Regions from separate parts of the Homo sapiens genome. Here region 2 is linked to region 1. The links come from fine-mapping of genetic effects on gene expression. A gene starts in region 1. The other region holds a variant in brackets. All regions are shown on one strand. Distances are between the middles of the regions. Region 1 holds the start of PON2 (paraoxonase 2). Region 2 holds the start of LOC107986823 (a long non-coding RNA gene).

Region 1 (5,386 bases):
GTCACGTAAAGAAAAGGTGCATCAAATTGTAAAGTAGGCCGAGGGTGGTGGCTCATGTGTATAATCCTACCACTTTGGGAGGCTGAGGCAGGAGCATCACTTGAGGCTGGGAGTTTGAGATTAGCCTGGGCAACAAAGTGAGACCCTGTCTCTGCAAGAAATAAAAATACTAGCTGGGCATGGTAGCATGCATCTGTAGTCCCAGCTACTCAGGAGGCTGAGGAGGGAGGACTGCTTGTGCCTAGGTGTTTGAGATTGCAGTGAGCTTTGATGTACCACTGTACTCTGGCTTGGGCGGCAGAGCAAGACCTTGTGTCAAAATAAAAAACAAAGAAAAACAAAAAACAAACAAACAAAAACCTGTAAATAAACTATCAGGCATTCTGTCAATAAGTTTTATTTACTTTTTCTTTTTTTTTTAGATTTGCAGCTATAACTTTAAAACCTTAAGATTAGTGAGAAGGGGGAATATTTGACTGTTGAGAAAACTTCCAACTTGCAGAAAAACTGGTGGCTTACACATTAGTGACAACATAATAAGCTTGTGAATTTTGGTGGTCTTGCCTTTGAAATGGAGAGCAGGACAGATCATATACAAAGTCATCCAACTCATGAATGTTCTGTAGAGCACAATGGGCATTACCTAACATGAAAATTAAGGTCAACATGTCCATTTCCTACCCATAAGCGTTCTTTCCTCAAATCTCACTCCCATCTCAGCCACCACACGCTTCCTCTTTGCACTGCTTTATCAGTAGATGAAACTACAACCATGGGACAGTGGAGCTGTGGCACAAACTCTGGTAGCACCTTTGACTTCTCCCTCATCCCTGGGGTTCCAGAGTTTGGGTCCCTGTTATCCTCTCTGACCTACTGCAATACCTTAACCAGTTACCCCATGTCTGCTCTCTATTCTAGTAGTTCTCGACCTTGACTGCTCATTAGAATTATCAGGAATGTTTTTAAAAATAAAAAATGCCACTGCTACTGTCAGCCACTGTTCTTACATTATGCACTTCCTTATTTATCTATTTACCTGGGAACCCTGAAGCCAGCTTGCCAAACAATACATTATTCCATATCACATTTTAATTATAACGAAAAATCTCTGGTAGGTAGACACCATAGTTTATAAATTACCAACTCAAATTTTGTTTTTTATTTATTTATTTATTTATTTATTCATTTTGTAGAGGTGGGATCTTGCTATGTTGCCCAGGCCTGTCACTAACTCCTGGGCTCAAGCAATCTTCTGGCTTAGGCCTCCAACAGTGCTGGGATTACAGGTGTGAGCTGTAGATTCTGATCCAGAACAGCTGAATCAGAATCTTTGGTGGTGCCACTCAGACACCAGCCCTCCAGGAGATTCTAATGTACAGAGAACCATTGCTCTCCTCCAATCCCCCCTTCCAGGCTTATCTCTATAAAACACAACTAGTTATATTAAGTTCTTGTTGAAAAGCAAAACCCACCAATATTTCCCTTTTGAAGCACTATTGGGCCTATGAAAGTGGGGCCCCATTTTTCAACTTATATTTAATGGCCTCAAAACCTATCCTTCCCACCACCCTACTATTCTCATCTCCTGACTTTATGCTCCCTTCAAATTGGCCCATTTGCTAGTCTTCCAACTTCCCACCTTAGCCCCTTTGCTCCTGCTGCACTATACATTTGGCATGGGCCCCTTCATGCTCATATGTGTTGCACCCACCCTTCAAGGTCAGGTCGAATGTCTCTTCCTCCCTCTAGAACTCCACCCTCAGGGGATGGAATCTTTCCTCTTTAAGCCTATGCGGTTCATTTGTGTCTGTCCTTAGAACATCCTAATTTATACATTTACTGTATTTTAATTCTCTCTTCCCCTGTATCAAACTCCATAAGGGTCGTACTCTACTATAGAAGCCTAAGAGAGAACATTACACATAGCAGGTGCTCAGTCTTTCTGGAACTCTTTTGCATGAGGCCTATAAAATTTTGGTTGAGGCAGGGCAGAACAGCTCACACCTGTAATCCCAGCACTGTGGGGAGGCCTAGGCTGGAGGATTGCTTGAGTGCAAGAGTTAGGGAACAGCCTGGGCAATACAGCAAGACCCCATCTCTACAAAAAATAAAATAAACAAAAAACAAACGTTGAGTTGGTAATTTATAAACGATGATGTCTACCTACCAGAGATTTTCATTAAAACTAAAATGCGAGATGGAATAGTGTCTGCGCTGTCTGGCATTCTGGCTTCAGGCTTCCCTGGTGAATAAATAGGAAGTAAGAACAGTAGCTGAATATTTCAAGTGTCTTTGATCTACAGCTGAAGAGTTTCTCAAACTATGCAGAAATGGGTGGAGAACAACTTTATTAAAGACGGGTCTGGTTTGGGCAACAAGGAGAAACAGCACCAATGACCTGAAATAAATCTTCATAGTTAAGGTTTCAATGCATGAGTAGTCATTTTGTTTTCAATTTAAACCACTAGTTTGGCCCTTGGGTAATTGCAAAGCATTCTCTTGTCAGCCTAAGCAGAAGAGAACTTTGTTAGCAGCAAGGGCTTATAAACTTTCAAGAAAGTGTCGCGATTCACTCCAAACTTTGCTAGTTTTTTCACTAGAAGCGGAGAGTCGGGGTGATGGGGGTTCAACTAGCTGGGGGAGGGACAGCATTCAAAAATTCTCCACCCCCGGCCGCAGGGCCAGGTCCCGCAGGAATCCCTCCCCCAGCCTGCGCCCTCCCCGCACCACGCGGCCACCCCGAGCCTGGGGACCGCCGAGGAGGGGCGCGCGGGAGTCCCACCTACCTGAGTGCCAGAAGCCTCTCGCCCAGGAGCGCCAGCGCGATCCCCAGCAAGCCCACAGCCACCAGCCGCCCCATGGCGCGGGAGCCGGGCGCGCTGCCTCGCTCCGGCCTGGCCAGCAGCTCCGTGGGCGGTGCCATCTTCCCGGCTCGATGGTGCCGGCCGCGCTCCGCCCCGTCCTCCGCCTAGGCCGAGTCCCTGCGTCGGGGCCGCGGAGGCTCCGCCCTGGGCCTGGCCCTGGTCTTTGTCCTCACAAACCTATTTCCCCAGATACCTTCGGGACGGCCCGGACACGCCTTACATTAGGCTCATGATGTGAAACTTTGAATTCCTTCACTTCCTTTTTCAAACAACCCACCCGAAACCCTCTAGCAGCCCGCATACCTTTCTCGTTTCCCTAGTCTTCAAACACATTTCTCACTCGCTATTCCAGTGAGAAACTTACATAGAAAGCAGCTTTTGGGGATGGGGGTCGGTGGCCAAGGGAGGGAAAGTAACGGGATGCGTCGTGTAAATATTTCACGTTGGAATCACTACTTTTTATAACAGGACGTAGTTGCGAATAAATAAACATCCTGTGCCTCGTAATACTTTTTTTTTTTTTTTTTAACAGGGTCTCGCTGTGTTGCCTAGGCTGGAGTACATTGGCACAATCATAGCTCACTGCAGTCTGGACCTCCCGGACTCAAGGGACCCTCCAGCCTCAGCCTCCTGAGTAGCTGGGACCGCAGGCACGTACCGTTACACCTAGCTAAGTGTGTGTAAGTTGTGTGTGTGTCTGTGTGTGTGTGTGTGGAGACCGAGTCTTGCTGTGTTGCCCAGGTTGGTCTCAAACTCCTGGACTCAAGCCATCCTCCTGCCTCAGCCTCCCAAAGTGCTAGAATTACAGGAATGAGCCACCATGCCCAGCCTCTATTAATACTTCCAGACTACAGACTTAAGGACTTAGACACGTCTTTTTCATCCAAACTCAAAGGGAAGAAGTGTAGTTTTTTTCTTTTCCGTTTTTACTCTAACAACCGTAACATGAAGGAATAATTTAAAATACAATTTTAAAAGTAAAATGAAATTTACCCATCAAGATTGATACCATTACAATAAATGAGTACATCTGAAATAAGCTTCTAATGGTTTTCGGTATTTAATTGCCACCCTACAATATGTAGGCAGAAATGGTCACACTTGACAATTTTCAACAAATATCAGTTTTATAAAGAACCAGTAAATAAAAGTGGATGCCAATTTCCCACCTGCCTCTCACCAAAAAAAAAAAAAAAAAAAAAAAGCACAAACACCTCTCTCCCTGTGTGTGTGTGTATCTCTGCTTCAGTCCTAAGGATATTGGATTATACTGGATGGTAGAAAGAGAAGTAAAAAGTTGTCCTTTGAAAGCCCATGAGGCATTACCTTTTTTGTGTCGTGGACCCTTCTGGCAGTGGTGAGCCTGTGGATAACTTCTTAGAATAATGTTTATAAATGCTTACAATAAAATGCATAAATTTTCTCTGTGCGGTTCATGAAAAAAAGAAAGAAGAAAAAAAAATTTTAAATAAATGAATAAAATGTATAGATTGCAAAGAAAATCAATTACATTGTAAGGAAAAAAAATAGCTGAGAGCAGTCTGAGCTTTGTGAGGTATGCAAAATTTATCAGGCCCAGAGCGACATGAGTATGGGACTTCAGTCACGCCCCAATACCCATGCCTGGGGACAGTTGTTTAAAGACATTTTGTTCCCGAGTAGCTGTCCCACCCATTATCTTCATATTCCTGGAATTTATGATACAAAGAACAAAGTATAACCAATCCACAGCTTATGTTATTTTAACGCAAGGAATTTAGGAACTGCCTCTTCCTTCCCCTTAAAAATCTATGTGTAACTGCTGCTAATCAGAGTGTATATTTAGGGAAACTTGAATCTATACTCCTGGGTTGCAGTACTCAAACTTGGCCCAAATAAACTCTCTACTTACATTAATTTTGCCTTAGCTTTAAAATTAAAGGTCAACAATTGAAATGTAATTGTTAAAATATCTAAAACATAATTTTTTGCTATAGTAATGTGGTAATGTAATGTGTGCAACATTATTTAACATATTAAATAACAAGATCTAGCAACATTCTTTTAAATAAAGAGGAGTGCAAATGTTCTTTCATGATACTGAAAACAACTATAATGAAATAATGAAAATAACTGTTATTTCCATTAGTAACAGTCACAAGTACTGCAAATGCTTCTGAGGTTTGTCTGCTAGTTTTGTAATTGAAGAAAATGCTAAATTCCATTTGAAATCAAGATTTTTTTTTTCTTATCCAAGGTCATTAATTCCTCTGAACTATCAATGGACCACTGGGTTAAGAACTCTGACATAGGCTAAGGCTATGACTGTTTAGAGAAGGGTGGAATCTCCTTTCTAGGACTATTTTTGGTGTCAATTATTGAGGAAGAGAAGAGCCTCAGATACAAAATCAGAATTTAGGCCTGGCAAGGTAGCTCTTGCCTATAATCTCAGCACTTTGAAAGGCCCAGGTGGGAGGATCACTTGAAGCGGGGAGTTCAAGACCATTGTGGGCAACATAGGGAGAACCCATCTCTACAAAAAA
Region 2 (5,386 bases), 35 kb after region 1:
ACTATTGGCGTCAGGGAGTGGGATAGGGTATGCTAGAGGACAGAGATCACAAGTCCTCAGAAACATTGTAAAATTGTGTGTGTGTGTGTGTGTGTGTGTATGTATGTGTTTATAGACCTATACAGAAGATGTGAACTTACACCTACACACATGTGCAAAAACATATTACTTAATACATTTTAAATCAAATTTAACTTGATCTCAAGCCACCGTTGTGTCTTGGATGGGAGAAAATCTAAGCTCAGTCATTGCTGATACTCTCCTAGCCCCACCTGTGGGCAGTGCAAAGGTTCCTGAACTTTCCAGCGGGGCTTGCATAAATGGATTGTAGTCTATGCTCTGCACAACCTTAGGGTCACCATTCACATCTCAAGAGGCTTGACCACATTCTTGGAGCAGGAGAGAGGAAAACTCCAGCATGAAACAACTCACCAATTAACATTTCAATAAATTATGCAGCCACATACATTTTTTTTTGAGGGAAGAAGAGAGCCCATACCTTTCATTAGATTCTCAAAGCAAAGAGGGAGCCTGATTTGATCCAGCAAAAGAGATGGGTGTCAAACCTCTGTGCTCCACAAAGCAGGAAAACATCACATTTGCATTGATTATAGAGCCTTTTCATAGTGCTGACACATCTATGAGCTTTGAGTGGCCTCATTATTTTTTTATTAAATTGGGTTGGGGGGGGCCCCATTCAACCTAAATGCAGATGGAGTCATTGTGAATGAACTGCAATATACACAATAGGTAATAAATTCTGGGAAATGAAATCTGTCATCAGTCCACTCTTTTACACAACAAAAACCAAGATGGGGTATAACACTGAGACTTGAGGCAAAAAAGTCTCCAGGATAAAGAGGCAGAAATTGCATTCATTGACTTGTAAAGCATGTGGGGGGGCCTCTTCTATGAACAGAACAGGAAAGGGCCAGTACTAATTCAGTAAAAAGTATGTAAAACCACTGAACAGAAGACCATGCATGTAATGGAGGGAGCTTGTGGAACGCACAATGGTTTCACAAATAAATGTGGACACCTGAATGGTAACATCATTATCAGCCACATCTTCAAATACAGGGAGAGAGAAAGCACTTTCAGAAGAGTAGTAGGAAAAACACTCAAGTTAATGAAGAAACCCTGCACTAAGTCATATCTGTCATTTTAAGTGCTCATTACAATGATTATTTTTAACCGTCATTTAATTTTGTACAAAATTCAATTGATCAGACATAGAGCCATGATTAATCACTTGTGTATGACTAGACGTAAGTGGGTACTAATGAGCAGTAAACGCATGTCCAAGTCCTGTTTTTAGCATTGTTCTTACAATAAGTAGCATCCACTTTCTGCATCTCATTGCCTTTGGATGAATCTGGAAATCCCTGTTTTGTGACAGTTCAATTTAGTCTTTTGTTGCTTTGATTCCAGGGTTCTTTAAAAATTTTAAAAAATCAGTGCTCTTAGAGTTTTTGAACATGTTGTACAATCATACTTTCCATTTCTTTATCAGTACAAAAAATAATTTATCTGTAAGAGAGTTGAAGTTTCTTCACCAGTGTATGGGCAGCATGGGGCAATACAAAGTTCATTCCATTTGTTTGGAGCTGGGCAGATTTAAATTATATAAGTTGTGTCTTCATTTGTTAAATGGGAAAGCAGTGTCTACCTTACAGTGCTACAGGTAATATCAGTTAAATGTCTGTCACAGTGTTAGAATACACTCAGTACATAACAGTTGTTCTGTTGCTTCAAAGTAAAATTATAAAACAACTGACATGCAGACAATTTTATCTTGTGAGTTCTGGAATGATAGAATTTTTGAGGTCAAAAGGCCCTCAGATGAGGAAACTGAAGGCCTGAGGAGGCAAAAAGACTTGCTAAGATCAAACATTTAGTTTTCCTCATTCAATAACAATTTGTTGAATGAAAGAATAACATTACATCATCACCAGAAACCAATTTCCTATGTGTCAGGTAATGATCTGTCTCCTACAAGTGTGGCCTGTGACCTACATGTGACAATGTAAAATGTTAAATGTGAACAGGAATGAGAAAATTTTCCATTTTTTATCGGAAAATATGTATTGATTGCACTTCATGCTTAACTAATTTCACTTGTTTATTCAATTAAAAATGGCATTGATTTATTGTTTCAATCAATTGCCTACTTATACTTTTATAATTATTATATATTACATATTAAAGAAAAGGAGTAAGTCATATGGCTTATTATGAGAACAACAGTAATGCATTTAATTGTTGGTTCATTGCTCGTTCATAAAAAATAAAGTTATTGGAAATAAATTCGTTAGTATATAATGCAGCTCATTTGGCATACTTTATACGCTCAGAATTGAGTAAGTTCTATTTTCCGTTATATCAGTCTTATCAGATTGATGTAAGAAAAATACTTAAATGGCGGATTTTCATATAAAAGAAGAAGGCATTATGATGTATGAATTTTTAAATAGTGGTTTCCGAGAAATTGCACTGTGGCAGTCCTGCCTTCCTGGGGTTATTCAACAGCACTTCAGCTTATATAATTACCACACATGCCTCCTGTACAGAGCCCACGAGGCTCCCAGGTCGGTCACCATGGCAACAGATTCTGAATGGAGTAGCCCCATCCTGATACTGTGCATAGAGCCTCTTCCTGGAAAAAGTTTTATTTTTTAAATTTAAACACATTCTCCCAAATTACAGATATACAGTTTCAGAGTACTTGTTCCAGTTTTCTTATAAGTGTAATGTGAACACTAAATGTCCAGGCACACACAATTTCTTGAATAACAAAGGAAATATAAAGCAAACATTTAAATACAGATTGCCTTTTCATTCTGAGCACCATTTTGAAAAGAAGAGGAAAATAACCTTTCAGAATAAAAAACACCTGAAGGAACAGCTATGGGAGGAAATCAGCTCTCTTTGATCATTTGCTGCAATAGGAACTTTTATGCTTTTTTTAAAAAAAACTCTTAATCCATAGATCTAAGCAAATAAAATGCAATTTTTCCATTAAAAATGTTTTAAAAGAATGAACAAACACTTGTAGACAGGGCCACTTTGATAAATCTTGTGCAATAAAAGTATATTTTTATCAATAAAGTGGAAAGTACACATATTTGCTCAAGATTCTCTGTCCGCCCCCACACCTCCAGGAGGTCGGTAAGAACTCTCTGAAGCTGTGGTGTCAGA[T/A]CCTTTCTCATTTCCTGTTTGCTGTTTGGACAGGCCTGGCAGCTGTGGCGACTGAATCTAAGAAGAAAGGCTGATAATGCTCTGGCTGGTTTCATAATAGGACTTTTCAAGGCACTGTCCCATCCATTAACTCATTTGAAATGAAAGGTAGGGTTTTCTTTTTTCCCCCCATTAGGAAAGATACTTACATGTTTTATTCAAAATTCTTTTAAGCCACCACCAAAGAAGAGAAAGAAATTAACATAATAACTCTCCGGGTGGTTCCCTGTTTACAAAGTAAGTTTAACTTTTACTTTGTTTTCCTTCAGAGCCCTAAATTCAACTCCTACTTTATTCCATATTTCCATTTTCAGTCATCCTTGATGCCTGAAATGATTTAGTTGATGCCATATTGATTTCGTTCTTGTTTGCTTCCTCAAAATGTTTCTCATTTTTCTGTCCCCTTGGCTCATTTCTAAGTGTGTTTTCTAATGTCCATATCCTGCACAATTGCCAGCAGCACCATGACCTAGGGAGGACCCTCATTATGAACTGCATTCTACAGGAAAAAAGACGCACGTCCCCTTCAAATGATGTGGCTTGCCCCATGGAAAACAGAGTTGGTGTCTGAGTCAGGTTTGCTTCCCCAGAGCTCCAGGGCCATTGCTATTGTCCTCTTTCCTGCACGCTTCCTCATTTGCAAAACAATGTGAATTCTGTTCTTGCCCTTATAATTAAAGGAAAAATGAGGATGATCAAGAGTGGTTGCTTCAGGGACCTTCCACACTGCTAAGGCCACCTCTATTTTTCCAGACTCCAGGTATATTTTAAAATGAAGACATGTCAAAATAGGTTTCTGTTGTAGTTAAAATGTTTACACCTATTAGCAATTATATTTGTATGAGAGTTGAAGGCTCTTCCAACACTGTCAGTGTACTTCTGTGACAGTATGTATCTAAACTCATTTGGAAATAAACAATAATTGTCTAATTTTGGCCCTTAATTGAGGTCCTAGCTTAATGCCCTCTTTTCTCATAAAGGAATGCCCTTACATGAACATTAGGACTTTAGAGGACAGCAGTGGTGGCAACAGTGGAGTTGACTGCAGCTGGGGCAAAGGTAGCAGGTTAATACCAGCTAACACCTCCAGAGCATTTGCCATGTGCCAGGGACAATGCTAAGTATTTTATGTGTGCTAACACTATGCTTTCTTAGGCAGGTACTATTATTATCTGCTTTTTTTAACAGATGAAGAAACCGAGCCACACAGAGGTTAAATAACTTGCCCAAGGGTGCACAACTACTAGTAGTATTGAGTCTATACGCTTAAGTATTGTGCTATTCCATTTCTTACTGAATACAAAGCAAAAAAACATAAGGATCAGAGGAGGAGTGTGAGTGTCCTCATACTCACAGCAAAAGGAGGTCAGTGGGTGTGTGTGGTGGTGGGAGGGGACTTACAATATCAATAATGACACTAGGTGGGGGCTCAGTAGCTCATGCCATTTTGATTATCTACCAATGTGTGGGTGTCCCCAGGCTGAAGGAATTGGGTTAACAAGGTTTATATCTGCACTTACATTCTTTCCCCAAAAATGTGTCCAAAATTGAAAGTGCCATTTTTCAATGACACATAGAATCTGGGCAGTAGCACAGGACCCTGTGTTCAGAATGACCAGATGCTTAGACGAATGATCTGTTGCCGCCATCTTGAAAATCTCAATACTATTTGAACAAATCTCAATAATATTTGAACATTTTGCACTGGGCCCTGCAAATTATGTACCTGGTCCTGTGTGGAATTCTGGGCAATTTGTACACACTAGTAACTCCAATCTGCCGGGGGAAACAAGGTTCTATCTCCCTGTGATTCCTGTGGAACTGCAGTGCTATAAATCTGCAGTTGCCTGTTAGTGGATTTGCATTTTACTGCAATGTAATACTTTTCCTCACAGGGAAAAGCAGTCTACTCTCACTAATAGGGGTTTTAATGATGCTCTGCCAAGGTCCACGTGCATAGCCTCAAGCAAAAAGGCTCAGGACAGGCTCTGAATTCCACAGCAGGGTTAACTACAAGGGAGCTTCTTTGCAGTATGATAAAACGCGGTTAACCTCAGCTGGATTTGCAGCTAGCCCCAAGGAGCACTCCTCAGGAGCAACACAGGTCTATGTATAACATTTCAGCTCTGGTCCACCCAGAAACGTGCAC

The links. PIP is the estimated chance that this variant, and not a neighbour inherited with it, causes the effect. A credible set is the group of variants that fine-mapping cannot tell apart.
Region 2: its variant is the best candidate, but not a certain one, in a credible set for the expression of PON2 in whole blood (TOPMed, PIP 0.72).

The regions. Positions count from the first base shown.
Region 1 is chr7:95,432,092-95,437,477 of GRCh38, forward strand. It overlaps PON2 (paraoxonase 2), which reads right to left and starts at 2,937. Exons shown (of 9, transcript NM_000305.3): 1 at 2,787-2,937. The coding sequence starts at 2,860. RefSeq lists a silencer at 2,620-3,049 and an enhancer at 2,724-3,294.
Region 2 is chr7:95,467,461-95,472,846 of GRCh38, forward strand. It overlaps LOC107986823 (a long non-coding RNA gene), which reads left to right and starts at 3,352. Exons shown (of 3, transcript XR_001745286.2): 1 at 3,352-3,474; 2 at 3,695-4,602. It also overlaps a transcript of ASB4 not described here. RefSeq lists enhancers at 2,990-4,189, 3,098-3,147. The variant T/A (reference allele first, on the strand shown) is at 3,199.